Regions from separate parts of the Homo sapiens genome. Here region 1 is linked to region 2. A link means that fine-mapping ties the variant in region 2 to the expression of a gene that starts in the linked region. Tissue or cell type: blood mononuclear cells. Region 2 holds a variant in brackets; the other region holds the start of a gene. All regions are shown on one strand. Distances are from middle to middle.

What was found. PIP is the estimated chance that this variant, and not a neighbour inherited with it, causes the effect.
Region 1: VWF starts here. The variant in region 2 is fine-mapped to the expression of VWF in blood mononuclear cells (TOPMed, PIP above 0.99). The same link has a PIP of 0.9 or more in whole blood.

The regions. Positions count from the first base shown.
Region 1 is chr12:6,119,935-6,127,934 of GRCh38, forward strand. VWF (von Willebrand factor) reads right to left here and starts at 4,736. Exons shown (of 52, transcript NM_000552.5): 1 at 4,487-4,736; 2 at 3,208-3,262; 3 at 1,240-1,404. The coding sequence starts at 3,262.
Region 2 is chr12:6,051,126-6,059,125 of GRCh38, forward strand. It overlaps VWF (von Willebrand factor), which reads right to left. Exons shown (of 52, transcript NM_000552.5): 14 at 6,724-6,919; 15 at 5,732-5,947; 16 at 1,418-1,658. Among named protein-coding and RNA genes, the nearest start is that of SNORA120, 15 kb to the left of the region's middle. RefSeq lists enhancers at 6,976-7,483, 7,484-7,991. The variant C/CA (reference allele first, on the strand shown) is at 3,662.

The DNA of each region.
Region 1 (8,000 bases), 69 kb after region 2:
CTTGTCCCTGAGGAGCTCATGGAGGAGTGGGAAGGATGGCAGTGCCCAGAAGTCATATGTGATAAGTTTCCCAGCAGAGTCAGGGCAGGTAGCAAAGATGGCCTCAGGGAGAAAGCAGGAATGCGGGGAGCTCATAGCTATAGCCAGGTGCTAGACAGAGCCTAGCCCAGTGCTGGGCACATGGAGGACCCTGTGTCAGTCCCCGCTGACTGATGGAGCAATGACCCCAGGAGCCCTACAGCCCAGATCTCAGGTAAGTGTCCAGGTGTTGCCAAAGACTCCCTCCTTGACCAAACTTGAGTGGGGCACTTCTGAGCCCTCTTCTAGATTAAGCCTTGGCCTTGGGCTCTGTCCTTGGCCTGCTTAGTCCAGTTTTTTTGTTTTTTGTGGGTTGTTTTTTTTTTTGAGATGGAGTCTCGCTCTGTTGCCCAGGCTGGAGTGTATCTCAGCTTATTGCAACCAGGTTCAAGCGATTCTCCTGCCTCAGCCTCCCAAGTAGCTGGGATTATAGACACACACCACCACACCCGGCTAATTTTTGTATTTTTAGTAGAGATGGGGTTTCACCATGTTGGCCAGGCTGGTCTCAAACTCTTGACCTCAGGTGATCCACCCACCTTGGCCTCCCAAAGTACTGGGATTACAGGCATGAGCCACCGTGCCCGGCCTCAGCTCCACCTTTTATTGTCTGTCAGGCCTTGGAAGGATCATGCAACCTTCATGAGCCTTGGTTCTCCATTGGTAAAACTGGGATGACTACAGCTACATCCCAGGGCTGTTGTGGGGATGCAGGGACATGGCAGGGACAGTACCAGCCCTTCTGCAGGAATACAGGAAGTCCTCAGCATAAGCTGATGTTCTGATCCACAGGCCACCAAGAAAACAACAACGAGTCTTCTCTCTGGCAAGGAGTTTTACACGTTCCAAAGCACCTTCTCTAGTTCATCATTTGCCTTGATGCTGTGGAGTTCCCAGGGCATCGCCGGGCCCCAGAGCAACGGACACAGTGGACTACCAAAGATGAAGACTCTCTTCATCCATCCCACCCGGCTCCCGTGGGGAGAGACCCGGGGAAAGCCAAGAGGGGCTACGTGTCACAGAAAGGCTGTTCCTCTCCTTGTTCTCAGCAGTGACCTTTCCGCTCAGACACTGTCCTGAGAGCAGGAATCCTCCCCCACACCAGGGCTAAGCTCAGCCAGCCCTCCCTCTGAAGTCCTCCCTGCAGTGCCCAGAACTCACCAATAATCGAGAAGGAGCGTTTCTGGCAGCCCCCTGCCAGGAGGTAACTGCAGTATCCCGCAAAGCTGTACATGCTCCCATCAAAGGTGTTGACGAAGTCACTTCCGAAAAGGCTGCATCGGGCCGTGGATGACCTGCCGCGAGTTCCTTCTGCACAAAGGGTCCCTGGAGGGAGAGGCCACAGGTTGGGCTGGTGATCTCAGGGCACAACTGGGACCATCAGCTCAAACCTCTCTGGCCTCGTAGAAATTAGACTGCCTCTGATAGAAACTGGGCTGTGGGGAGGTATTTTCCATCCTAAATGAGACTAAAGCTGTTGCTTTCAGCTCCCAGATATGACCCCAGACTCACAGCAATAACTAAGGAACAGTTTTTCAGGAAATCCATTAGTTTCAATGACATTTACTTACTGATTTAAAATGTCATCATGTCCATTATTAAAAATTTGGGGCATACAGAAGAAAACAAAGAAGCTGGCCGGGCACAGTGGCTCACGCCTATAATCCCAGCACTTTGGGAGGCCGAGGTGGGCAGATCACCTGAGGTCAGGAATTCAAGACCAGCCTGCCCAACATGGCGAAACCCTGTCTCTACTAAAAATACAAAAACTAGCCGGGTGTAGTGGTGGGCGCCTGTAATCCCAGCTACTGGTGAGGCTGAGGCAGGAGAATCACTTGAGCCCAGGAGGCAGAGGTTGCAGGGAGCCAACATCATACCACTGCACTCTAGACTGGGCGACAGAGTGAGACTCTGTCTCGAAAAAAAAAAGAAAAAGAAAAAGAAAAGAAAAGACAAAGAAGTTAAAACCATCTGTAACCCAACATTCAGCGATGATTAGAGTTAACATTTCAATGTTCATCTTTCCATTTTGTTGTATAGCATATATACAGCTGTGGGTTTTTTATAAATTGGTGACCAACTTGTGCAAACTACCTATAACCTCTGTTTATTTCTCAATAGATTGTAAACAATTTGTCGTGCTAGTGTATATACTTCCAATATGCGGTTTTTAGTGGCTGCATTATATTTTGCATCTGAATGTCTATAGTATAGCCCTCTATTGTTAGGTTTCTAGCATTTTTCCATGTTTTAATATTATAGATAGATTGCAGTGAGCATCTTTGTACATAAATCTACTAGCATGTCTTGGGCATGTTAAATTTTAAACAGATCAGACTGTGTGCCTGACACATAGACTCTCTGAAGTGTGAACTCCTCCGGCGTCACAGGCTAACTCCTTCACTGACTATGGGTGTGTGTGTGTCGGCAGGTGGGGAAATACAGCAGTAAATCTCTAAGTGTTCTGGGTTCCCCGGCAAAAGACCCACCTAGTAGGAAGATGCAGAGAGTGTGACAAATGTGTATTTTTTTTCCCAGACTCACCTGTGGGCAGTAGCTGGATGCTGCTGACCTGAGAGATCTAAGTGGAAAGCGCCCAAGGTCAAAAGTCCCCTCCCGCCATTTGCAGACCCAGAATCTTAGCAAGGGAAGGGCAGCAGTATGATGCAGTGCAGTGGAAAGGGTGTTGGCCTGGAACCCAGGAAGACTGACCTCTGATTTTGGCTCTAGGAGACTTTGGAGCAGTCATTTCTCCTCTCTGACCCTCAGTCTCTTCATTGTACCATGGGAGGTTCAACAAGGTGACCTCCACAATCTTATCGAAAACTAATAATCCATCCAAGTCTTGGATTCCTTCCTCCTCATCCTGTGCCCCCATAATATAGGACAGTTCTGTGCCACCTTTATGCTTCTTAATTCCCCAACAGGAGATGGCATTTGCAGGCACCTGGTCTCTGGAATACAAGTCAAGGGTGGGAACTCCGCAGAACCTTCACAGGAGGCAACCAACAGCCTAAGTTAGGGCTGGGCACACAGGTGAGCTCCAGACACACCTGCTGATTCCCGGAAAGGTGTCACTCCAGATGGCCCTGGGGCAGGAATGAGAAATGGAGGCCCTTTTGTACCTACCTGGCAAAATGAGGGCCAGAGCAAGCAGCACCCCGGCAAATCTGGCAGGAATCATCTGCAAAGAAGCAAGAGACGTGAGCTGGTCATTGCTGCCCAGGTAGGCGGCTGCTGGTGTGGCGACTATCAGGGCATGCAGTAGCAAAAACATTTCTTTAAAGCAGGAGAAAAGATTGATCCTCGTGACCCCCTTTTCCCCTTTGAACATGGACTTCTGGCCCCCGAAAAAACCCCTGGCCAGTGCCAGGCCCAAGGGTAACAATCGCTGTGAGCTGGGACCTGTGGGCACCTTTCCACAGACAGCAGTCCCAGGCCCAAGACAGGAGGAAAACGCTGCCTTCCCTCCAGGCCCGCTGGGCCTCACATCCCTGCCTCCTGAAGCAGCTGGGAGCTAACACACACCTCATTCCTTCCTGCCTCTGCATCCAAACTGGCGAGTAGGAACCGTCTTACACTTGTGTGCCCACCACAGCAGCCCAGACATAGAGAATGCTCAGGAACCACCAACTTGACGGTTTGCTTGTTGGCCCCTGACTCTGTACCACAAGTGCCTTCACAAGAGCAAAGGCTGTCTCCCTTGCCTCCAACCCCAGCACCTGGCAAGATGCTTAGCACCCAGGAGATGCCCAGCAAATGTTTGCTGAGTTCATCTGAAAAAATGGACAGGAGTCCAGCGGCCCTGGATGCAGGCAGACTTCCCCACTGTGTGACCCCCAAGAGAGGGACAATTCATCCTGGCTGGCAGAGCGTACCCCAAGTCACTTAGAGCCCCTGCTGTAGCCCCTCTCCTCGGGAAAAGTTGTTAAATGAAGTGCAGAATCTGCTGCCTGAGATTCACTGGGGGTGACTCCCTTCCTACCTAAGGTCCCATCCAGCCAAAGGTGAAATCAAGCCAATCTGTGATACATCTGTGGAAGGAACACTGAGATGTCAGATACTGCCAGGTCTCGGTCTCCAAGCAGGTGTCCCCTCCCAGTCCTAACACGCAGGTACATTCAGCTGCTCCCAGGTTCTCAGAGGTGAGGGCAAACTTCATTCCAACTCATTTGAGTGAAGTACTATCAAACAGTAAAACCCACTGCATGAAGAAAAGCAGCCCCAGGACCCTCAGAGGCAAGTGGAGGAGGGAGTATTAGGATCATCCCTGGCTGAATTGAATTGCCCCTCCAAACAAAGCCCTTCTAGTCCAGCGACAGAGAACTCCAGCTCCCCAGGAGCAGGGATCAGTCAGTCCTGCATCTTCCTCCCACAACTGAGCCAGCTCTCCTTCCAAAGGCCATACCTTCCCCTGCAAATGAGGGCTGCGGCTATCTCCAAGGTCCCTGGGAAACTCAGCTGCTGGACAATGGTGCCGCCCACCCTAGGCCATGCTCTCAGCTGCTGCAAAGGCTCAATCAGGTCTGCTACAGCTCCGGACTGTCTTGCTGTTATGTAGCCCAGGGGCTGTGGAGTCCCCACTGCTGGGGGAGATAAAGCCCAAGCTGTGACATCCACCAACCACCCTCCCTTTCCCACCACAATAGCTGTGAGCTGCCACAACAGGGGATTGGCCTCCTTTTAATTACCAAAAGGAAACAATGAAAGGAAATGGTATTAGAAGTACCTCCAAGCTGATAAAGCTTTGTAGAGTTTGGAGGGAGACCTCCTGGCAGCTGCCTTAATTAACTGCCTTGCCCTCCCCAAACACCCCCTATCCCTACACCCCCACACTTGATCCCTGGTCTTCCTAGAGTGCCCCACCTGTGTGGGATAACCAGGAATGCTGGTTGTTTCAGGGCAAGCTGATACAGGCCAGGGGGAATCACAGTAGAACAACACAGCTTCCTGATCCAGCTTCCAGGGCTGGACTCCAGGGAAGTTGAGAAAAACACCTCAACCTGAGCCAATTTTGCTGCTGTGTTTGGAGGAAGGGGAGTACTAACACTTCCTATGCACCCCAGGTATGAAGGATCCGGTCCTGGCCCTGACAAAAACAGTCCATTTGGATCCTGGCCAGGGTTGAATGGATCGGCTAAAGATGAAGGTCTTGGCCACAAGCCTAAGCCTTTGTAAAATGGTGAAGGTGGGGAGTGATGGTTTGAGTCTAATACTTCTACTGTTGCTACATTCTAATAATTCTAATTCTCAAGGACATTTCCACCCACTTCTGGTACCCTGATCTTACACACACACACACACACACACACACACACACACACACACAATTCTTCTTCCCAGCCTCCCATTCCCAAAAGCCTAATTCTCAACACCATCTGCTAAACTAATTCCTACTAAAATAAGTAACTGATGCAATGGGCAGCGGTGGGGGGAAGATGACTCTCGTGCTGGGATTCCAGGCACTGAGACAAGCACCCTGAGGCATGTCTGGGTATGGAAGACCTCCTCACTGCTTCTCCATGATACCTCCTGCCCTAAGACTTTGAGAAACCACTAGGTTCCAACCTCCTCCCTTCCCACATACCTCGCACTCTGCTACTCCCTTTACCGCCCCAGGAGAGGAAGATGCACACTCCCAAGGAAGAAAAATGGCACCAGAGGCAGAATCAGCATGAGACAGTAGAAAAGGCCATTGGGGGGCCGGGCACGGTGGTTCACGCCTGTAATCCCAGCACTTTGGGAGGCCGAGGTGGGCGGATCACGAGGTCAAGGGATCAAGACCATCCTGGCTAACATAGTGAAACCCCGTCTCTACTAAAAACACAAAAAATTAGCCAGGCGTGGTGGCGGGCGCCTGTAGTCCCAGCTACTCGGGAGGCTGAGGCAGGAGAATGGCGTGAACCCGGGAGGCGGAGCTTGCAGTGAGCTGAGATCGAGCCACTGCACTCCAGCCTGGGTGACAGAGCAAGACTCCGTCTCAAGAAAAAAAAGAAAAGAAAAGAAAAGGCCATCGGGATTTCCACTTCCAGCTCTTATTTAAAAAAACTAAATAACTAATCTGAAAACCCTTTCATTACAAAATATCTTTAAATGCTGTGCTAAATACAACAAATGTTCTTTAAATCCACAGTTGATCTGGGAGGAAAGTAAGGAATATCTTAAAGGGTCAATGAGGAAGAGGAGCCTAAATGAGCATGAGGCAGGGTAGGCCCATGGGTGGCCTAGCGTAGGCCAGTCTGGGAACCCTCCAGACTGGAGGCCGCACATTACAAGAATGGGCAGTGCAGCTACGGGCCTGACCCAGAGGGAGAACTAGAACGGAGATCCCTGCAAAAGCTGAAAGTTTGAAGGGAAACATCTTCCAAACAGTGGACCAGGAAAAAAATCCATCCCCCAACCTAGAAGATAAGGAAGTTTGCCTGTCTCCACTTGTTTTGGGGTGGGGTGGCGGGGGGAATTAAGTCTTTTTTTAGAATATTCTTTTCTTTCTTTTTTTTTTTTTGAGATGGAGTCTCGCACTGTCCGCTGGGCTGGAGTGCAGTGATGCAATCATGGCTCACTGCAACCTCTGCCTCCCGGCTTCAAGCAATTCTCCTGCCTCAGCCTCCCAAGTAGCTGGGATTACATGCACACACCACTACACCCAGCTAATTTTTTGTATTTTTAGTAGAGATGGGGTTCCACTATGTTAGCCAGGCTGGTCTCAAACTCCTGACCTCGTGATCTGCCCACCTCGGTCTCCCAAAGTGCTGGGATTACAGGCGTGAGCCACCACGCCCAGTCTAGAATTTTCATCCTTTGCACTCATGCAAATAAAGCTCTCTTGACGATGAATTCAAAATCACAAATTTTTCAACACTTGAGAAAACAATCTACCATGAGCAAGAATTAAATCCCTAAGAATTTCAGATAATAAAATCATCAGAGAAAGATAAAAAGAAAAAAATGAGTGTTTAAAATTATAATAGAGGCTAGGCACGGTGGTTCATGTCTATAATCCTGGCACTTTGGGAGGCTGAGATGGGATAATCGCTTGAGACCAGGAGTTCAAGACCAGCCTGGGCAACACAGCAAGACCCTGTCTTTACAAAGAATAAACTTTTTTCAAGGCAGGGCACGGTGGCTCACGGTGGGTGGATCACAAGGTCAACAGATCAAGACCATCCTGGCCAATATGGTGAAACCCCATCTCTACTAAAAATACAAAAATCAGCTGGGCATGGTGGCACGCACCTGTAGTCCCAGCTACTCTGGAGGCTGAGGCAGGAGAATCGCTTGAACCCGGGAAGCGGAGGCTGCAGTGAGCCAAGATCATGCCACAGCACTCCAGCCTGGTGACCGAGTGAGAGTCCGTTAAAAAAAAAAAAAAAAGAAAGAACAGGAGGAAAACTTGAAAAAGAACTTTAAGGCCAGACGTGGAGGCTCACACCTGTAATCCTAACACTTTGGGAGGCAGAGGCAAGAGGATTGTCTGTGCTCAGTAATTTGAGACTAGCCTACACAACACAGCAAGACCCCATCTCTACAAAAAATAAAAATAAAAAATTAGCTGGGCCTGGCGGTGCATGCCTGTGGTCACAGCTACTCAGGAGGCTGAGGTAGGAGGGAGGACCCCTTGAGCCCAGGAGGTTGAGGTTGCAGTGAGCCATAATCGCGCACTCCAGCCTAGCCAATAGAGTGAGATACTGTCCCAAAAAAAAAAAAAAAGAACTTTAAGAAATGTATATAGTAAATTAATTGAAAAATTCAAAAACACCAGATATTTTTGGGAAAAAAAAAGCTGAAAAATGGTTCTAAAGAAATCACTCAAATATAGAGATGAAAAAATGGAAGAGCAGCCAGGCACAGTGGCTTATGCCTGTAATCCCAGCACTTTGGGAGCCCAAGTAAGGCAGATCACTTGTGGTCAGGAGTTCGAG
Region 2 (8,000 bases):
AACTATTCCAGCCACACAGCAGAGGAGTCAATAGACAAAATAAGAATGGTAAAGTGCTGATAATCATTGAAGCTGGGAATGGATACGTTGGGGCTCCTTATACTATTCTCTCTACTTTAATGTCTGTCTGAAATTTTCCATAATCAGGACTTCTTTTTTTCTTTTTTTTTTTTTTTTTTTTTTTGAGATAGAGTCTCGCTCTGTCACCCAGGCTGGAGTGCAGTGGCAAGATCTCAGCTCACTGCAACCTCCGCCTCCTGGGTTCAAGCAATTCTCCTGCCTCAGCCTCCCAAATAGCTGGGACTACAGGCACCCGCTACCACACCCAGCTAATTTTTTGTATTTTCACCGTGTTAGCCAGGATGGTCTCGATCTACTGACCTCGTGATCCGCCCACCTCGGCCTCCCTAAGTGTTGGGATTACAGGCGTGAGCCACTGTGCCTGGCCAATCAGGATGTTTCTAACTGGTCTTCCCTAGTAGACTATCAGGTACTGTGTCTGGTGACTGGATTTCCCTCTGTCGCCCGGGCTAGAATGCAGTGGCGCGATCACAGTTCACTGCAGCCTTGGCTTCCTGGGCTCAAGCAATCTTCCCACCTCAGTATTTCAAGTGGCTGGGTCTACAGGTATGCACCACCATGGCCAACTATTTTTTTTTCTTTGTATTTAGGGACAGGGCCTCACTATGTTGCCCAGGCTGCTCTCAAACTCCCAGGCTCAAGCATTCCTCCCACTTCCACCTCCCAAAGTGCTGGGGATTACAGATGTGAGCCACTGCCCCAGCCTGGCTCATCTTTAGACCACCAATTCTTAGCCAGAACTAAGACAGAACAGGTGACAGGTAAGTGTTTGCTCAACAAATGTCCTGTTGTAAATTTCTTCCACGCTCATGGCAACCCTGTTGAAACCGACTGTCACAGAAGGCCTAGGCAAAGAGCTGCAGGAAGCAAGCATGATTTGGAGCTATTTTGGGGAAGTGCATGAAGCAGGTCAGGGTAGCAATGCCCCATGGAGGCAGCGCTGCAGTGGTCCATGTTCTTCCTGCTCAAATGCTTCAGCTTGAGAATACTGAAAGCAGGCTGGAAAGGAGGGTGACAGGCAGATCTCCCTTTTCCTGTTCCAGAAAAGGAAAACTGAGACCTAAAGCCCAGAAATGGGGGCCAACACATAACAGTTGGCAATAAAACTCAAGAACTCCTACTGCCAGCCAGGAATCCCAGTTCCCTGTGTAGTAAGGAAGTCAGAAGACCTGGACCAAATCCCAGCTCCGCTTCTGACTTGCTGTACAGTTCTGGACAAGTCACTTCCTTCCTTGGGCCCCAGTTTACCCATCCATGAAGTAAAGGACTTGGGGGTCCCGTTTTCCTCCCCAGCTCTGCTGTTTTAGAGGTCCCTGACACTGCTGCCTGCACTTACCACATGGTGTGATGGTCTGAGAAGATGTCTTCTGGCTGGAAGATCTCACCGTCATAGTAACAGGGGCACTGGGCCTTGGGCACGCAGTCCCCCCTCTCATCCATGTAGAGCCCTGGGGGGCAGAAGCAGCCCTCCAGGCAGGCCTCATTGCATTCCTCATCCGGGTAAGAGAGAGAGCGGCAGGTCAGGTTGCAGGGGGTCCCGCACTGCAGGTACACCTGGCCTTTCGGGCAGTTCAGCTCTAGAAGAGAGAGGAGAAGTAAGGCCTCAGCGGGAATGTTGGACAGCAAGGACTGTGGTTCTAGGACTTGCCACCCCTTGTAGCTGTGACCCCCAATTATTTAATTAAAATTTTTATTGAGATAATTGTAGACTTGCTTGCAATTACAAGAAGTAATGCAGAAAGATCCCATGTACCCTTTACCCAGTTTTCCCCAAGTGACCCCCAATTATATCTGTATGGTCATCAACTTCCTTTCCCACTATGAGCAAATGTGTATTTTTCAGCATGCAGATATGTATTATAATTATGGGGGCACACATTTTCTCCTTTCCTCAACCACAGGGAATGTGCATTAGTCATCTCTGAATTCTCAAAGCCTAGGATGTAGTAGAAATCCTGGCAGGTTTTGAAGCTGTGAATATTAAAAAGTACTGGGAATGACGGGCAAGGGCATACCCCGTGACAACAATGAGTACCATTTATGGAGCACCTACTGAATGCCTTGCTCTTACGTGGGCTCTATGCCTCATGCCGAGTTAGCTCTCATCACCCCCTTTCAAGAAACTTAGGCTGAGTGACTTGTTAGGGGTATACCTCACAGGAAGAAGCAGAGGAAGGATTTGAACTCAGCTCTCTGCAGCCCTAAAGCTCATGCTCATAACCCTTACTCTCTAGAAAGAAAACAGTCCCTTTGAGGACATGCTGGTCCCAAAGAGGAGGGACACTCATGCCTACCACAGCGAAATGGGCTGCACCCATCTGCCCACAGCCCTCACCCTCCCTAGCCTCCCACAGAAAAATACTGCAAGAGACACAAGCCAGAAGGAAGTGTAGCAAAGTGGCAACGCAGCTAAGGGAACGGGCTCTGTATCCCAAATACCTGGGTTCACGCCCAGGTCCACCACTAGCTGGCTGTGTGATCTTGGGCAGTATCCTCACTGGATGGAATAACAGTATCCACCCAGTCTTTGTGAAGGTTGAATGAGCTAACACATTTAGAAGAATGTCTGGCATGTGGAGAATGTTCACTGCTAATAATGTTCACTGATAATAATTATTATTCTTATTGCTAAGGAAACAGCCCCAGCTCAGCGGTCCCAAGAAGGAAGGAGTGTTCCAGAGAAAGGCCTAGGCCTCAGAAGCTCTGGCATTCTGGTGACAAAATTCCTTATGGGCAGGGTAGAGGACAGGGAAGGTGTGGGGAGCATTCTGCCCTTTCAAAATGCCTTCCCTGTGCAGACCAGCTGCTGCCCAAGAAATGAGAACCTCACCCTGGGCATGCTTCTTCTGAGACCATCACAATCCTTCCCCTCTCTGTTCAAATCCATTGCTCCAGCAGAAACCTACTGGCAGGGCATTTCACAGATGTTATAAAAGTAAGCCTTGGCCGTGAGCCTGAACAATGGAGTGGGGAGCCTCTGGAGAGACCCTGCAGCCTCCCGCTCCTACAACCACCCTGAACTTGGTGTTTGAAGGTAGCTGGGAAGGGAGGGCCTCTTTAATCCTATTAGACATTGATTTTTCTCTGCAAGAATGGAAAGGTTGGATTATTGGATGAATACTGAGGGAGTGTAGGTTAAGACAGGATGTGTTAGACAATAAAGATGGAGATGTCTTTCAACCACCTGAGCCTACAATGACAAGGGCACATTTTACCCATTAAAAAGCAGCTAGACTTGAGAACTTTCTTTGTTCTGATAGGCTATCTCTAGGGCTGGCTTGGAGCCTTATTAAATTTCTCCTTTAGCCTTCTTCCCCAAAGAAACAATGCACATCTCAGTTTAGCAGACACTTCTTGTGTATCCACTGCATGCCAGGGGCTATGCTAGGCCCAGGGAGGCAGAGATGGCCAGCCCTGGTCCTTGCCTTCAGAAAGCCTGTGGTCCTGTCTTCCCAAAGGGAGCACAACCAATTTGCAAGAGGAAAAAAAATGTGTGTGCTTCTCATCAATCTCCTCACACCATCCCACAAAGTAGCTACATGGTAAGTCTGTGCTCCCTGAGTGTCTCCAATTGATGTGA[C/CA]CTCTTCTTACGAATAGATTCACTGGTTTAGGGAGCTCTGTTCATTTCTCTGGAAGAGAAAGTGGAAGTGGGTAGAGGGGACAGCTGAGCCTGAGCTCTTCTCCAAGTCAAGAAAAGATTGGGGCAAGAACCCAGGAGACTTACCCAACTGCCTTGGGTACAAAGGGACAGCCCAAGGCCATCTGGTCAGCCCAGTCTCTTGTCACATAAACCCACAGAGACAGACCCCTCTTGTCCTTAACAGTCTCCAGGGAAAGCTCCTTCCTACCACCCTTTCTACCCTATCGTAATGCCTCAGGAGTCAAGACATTCTTTAACTGAATCTTATCCCCACTACTGAAGCATCAGCCCATTTCCCCTGTTCTGTTCAGTGGAGGTTAAGAATGGCTGTTCATGACAGATTAAAGAATATTTCAGTGGGCCCTTAGCATTCCAGGAGAATGTCCTAAATTAAGAAATCCTGCGGATGCTGCCACATACTGATAATGCATCATTTCTAACACTGGTGGACAAGCAAAGAATATTCACAAGCAGCATCTCATTCACTCCTCATTACTTTCCCCAATTTCTAAATAGCAAATGCTAAGGAAGAAACTGAAGTGCAAAGGGGTTACGTGAAGGGTTCAAGGTCCCATAACTGGTACCTCACGGGAAAGTTGCCAGTAAGGACCCAGACCCAGTTGTCCCAGCCCCTAGCCTGTGGCTCCCCAAGACATCCCAGAGCTGGAGGAATGGGGAGGGCACAACGGCTGCATTATGTGCTCGTCCCTTTCGTCCTTACTGTTGTCTCTGCTCCTCTTTCATATGACATTTCTACAACTCAAAACATGAGTTGGCTCATTGGACCCAAAATAGTAGCACTTCTAGGGTCCCCATGCCTACACTGCTCCTGAAATATAGATGCTAATTCCTTTCACTGTTTCTCATAACTCCTCTTCCAACAGGACCATCTACTTTATATATATATATATGTATACACACACACACACACACACACACACACACACACACAGGGTCTTTCTCTGTTGGCCAGGTCAGAGTGCAGTGGTGCGATCATAACTCACTGCAGCCTTAAATTCCTAGACTCAAGCAATCCTCTTGCCTCAACCTCCCAAGTAGCTGGGACTACACCTACATTTTAATTTCTAAACACATCTACTTTACCCTAAAAAACAGAATATCCACTATGCCTTATTCTTAACAGAATATACTCGTCACTTCTATGCCTACTATGATTCTACCATTGGAAACAAGTCTTCTCTGCCAAGAAAGCAGCTTTTTAAAACCCTAGCCAAGTACACGTCCTCCAGAAAGCCTTCCTTGGTTTTCCCTGCCCTGAATCTACTCATCCTTTCACTTAGTAGGATAGGTATCTAGTAGGGCGGCCATTTCCATCTGTGACTCTAACAGTAAGTTTGGAGTTCCACATCATCACTGTTGCCCGACCACACTGGGCATGCAGCAAATGTCCCCAGAGCAATAACAAAAACAAAAAAGTGAGCACAATAGATACCACCTCTGGTGCCAGGAATCCAACAGTGCAGAGTGAGAATCTAAAGCCAACTGGGGACAGTGATGTAATTCACCTTTAGGTAACTTTATACAACGCCAGAGGTTTTGTCCATCGGTGGTTTGCCTGGAGTTACAAGCAAAGGGTTTGTATGTGAATTTCCCTTGCCTTCATCGGACTCTTAAGGGAGGCGGAGACCCAGTGGGATCTGGGACCCATTCGCTCCACAGCCTGACCTTCTGTGCTGAACGAACACTAGGTGGCAGCGGCCACGGGAAACCCAAGCTTTGCAGGGACCCCCACGTTCTAGGCCTCCAGGTAGGAGGAGCCAACCTGTCTTCCTGGAACAGGCCCGAATCATCAGCCGGTCCCCACCGCCTGTCCTGCTGGGAGGTGGAAGGGAAAAGTGGGTGCAAATGAACCGTCCTCCCCACCCGTGTTTGTCACAATGCCCTACGCCCTCTTTCCACAGGAAACAACGCAGAGAAAGGGCTTCGAAAAGCACACGTGGACGGATTTGGGGGGCGGCCCGGAGGGCTGCGGGCAGGGAGGGCACGCACCACAGCGGCCTGGCTCGCGCCACGCGACGCGCACGCCTCTCCCCGCGCAGGCCGCGGCATAGCTGGCCAGGGCGCCGCACAGGCACTCGCGGCCGTCCGAGCAGGAGCACACGTCGTAGCGGCAGTTCCGCAGGTAGGGCAGCGGGCTGACGGCACGATGGCAGGCCTCGAATGTGGGGGACGTCAGGACCGCGCACGCCTCCTCGGAGAACCTGGCTGTGGGGCGAGAGGAGCGAGCCTGGGATGTGGTGGGGAGGAGTGGGGGCCACGCCCTCCCGGTCAACACTCCCCTGGAAATAGCCCAGTGCTGCTAATAGAGGGCTGCAAGGTCACGCAGAGAAATCTGCAAATGCCACCCCCACCCCCAAGTCCATTTATCTTACAATCATCTAACGCTGAGTTTGTAAGCTGCTGCTGCAGTAGACTGGGAAGGTCGAAGGACGGGGACTATGGAATTTTTTTTTTTTTTTTTTGGAGAGACACGGTCTTGCTCTGTCGCCCGGGCTGGAGTGCAGAAATGCGATCTTGGCTCACTGCGGCCTTGCCTTCCTGGGTTCATGCAACCGTCCCACGTAGCTCCCAAGTAGTTGGGATTACAGGCGCGCCCCACCACGCCCGGCAAATTTATTATTATTATTATTATTATTATTATTATTATTATTATTATTATTTTAATAGAAATGGGGGCTCCCTACGTTGCCCAGACTGGTCTCGAACTCCTGCCCTCAAGCGATCCTCCCGCCTCGGTAGACTTTTTTTTTTTTTTTCTTTCCCGGGGGTTGGCCTGTGGCGGGCGCCCAATAAAGGGACTTTGAAGAGCAAATGGCCCAGTTCAGATGATCAAGTGCTGACGGTAAAAACAAAGCCCGACCCCTTTCCTCGCTCCCCGCCCCCGCCCTCCGCGGTGGGAGCACTGCCTCCGGAACGCACTGCACTAATGTGGAGACCTCGAGATTCTGCGAGGTCCCTGCCTTGCCCCCGGGTTCACATACTCATGCGCGGGTTGAGGGCGCAGGGATCGCTGTGCTGCTTCTGCAGGTCCTGGCAGTCCCCGTGCAGCTTCCAGGCGTTCCCGAAGTCCTCCACCCGGGGCTCCGCCAGCCCAGAGGGGGTAAGGAAGTCGTCGCCCTGGTTGCCATTGTAATTCCCACACAGGCCGCAGGTCTTCCCGGCATAGACGGGGGACAGCTGCAGGAGAGACCAGGCCACTCTGGAGCCGCTGCCGCGAAAGCAGCGGCATAGTTGTTTAGCTAATGAGATGGTTTTAATAAAAAAAAAAAAGTTCCCCGGGTGAAACATAAATATGAATGTAATAAAAGGCAGCTAAGCCCTAGGCTGCAAAAGGGGGGGCGGGGGAAAGTGAACTGCAGTGTAAATTTACCAGCTCCATCCCTGTTCCCAAATCATCAGAGCCCTGTACTGCCACAAGAGATTTTAGAAATTATCAGATCATCTAAGGATGGAGAAGGGAGGCCCAAAGAGGCAAAGTGACTTGCCTAAGGTCAGGGAGGTAGTGGCGGAGCTAGGGTGAGTAGGCAGGTTGAGCCCAGCCCGAAGCACTCTGCCCTCTGTGCCATCCACACCAGTGGGCCTGACCCCCCCACCCAGAGTTACGTGCAAACTCAAGGCCCCTCTATATAGAAAGACTTCGCGTTGGTCACTCGGTGTGGGCCCAGCAGGCTGCCAGGTGTGGTCCAAGCCCTCCGGGAGCTCACGGTTAATGACAAGAAACACCTCCCCACAACCTGCTGCCTGCCACTCAGGCCCTGGGCATCACTGAAGAGAAAGGGCCACGAGCCACAGAAGACTCTGAGGGTGATGATGGATAGGAGTAGGAGTCTGCAGAGGCTCTGAGGCAGCCTGCCAGGGTGACAGCAGCAAAGCAGCGGCACAGTTCAAACTCCAGGCCATGAGCATGTGGTTTACTGTCCATTCTCAGAACTGAACAAAGTTCTGAGCCCAAAGTGCACATTCGGGAACAACCAGCAGAGTGGAGCCCGCCCTTCCCCCACACAGCTGGGGGCATCTGCTGGTTTCTACGGAGAGGACCCCGATTTGAAGGTGGAGCGGGGGCTGGGACCCAGGAGTCCTGACTCCCTCTCCGCATGTCATTACCAAGGTGGGATGACCTCCCTGCGTTCTGAATCCCTCAGGGGCTAGGGTCAGCTCTTAGAGCCCCTTTTCAGCTTCCAGCTCCAACCTAACAAAATGCAGGGTTAACAATCCAGTAGAAGGTCCCAGGCCCATAGAAATCGAACCCAAGTAAACA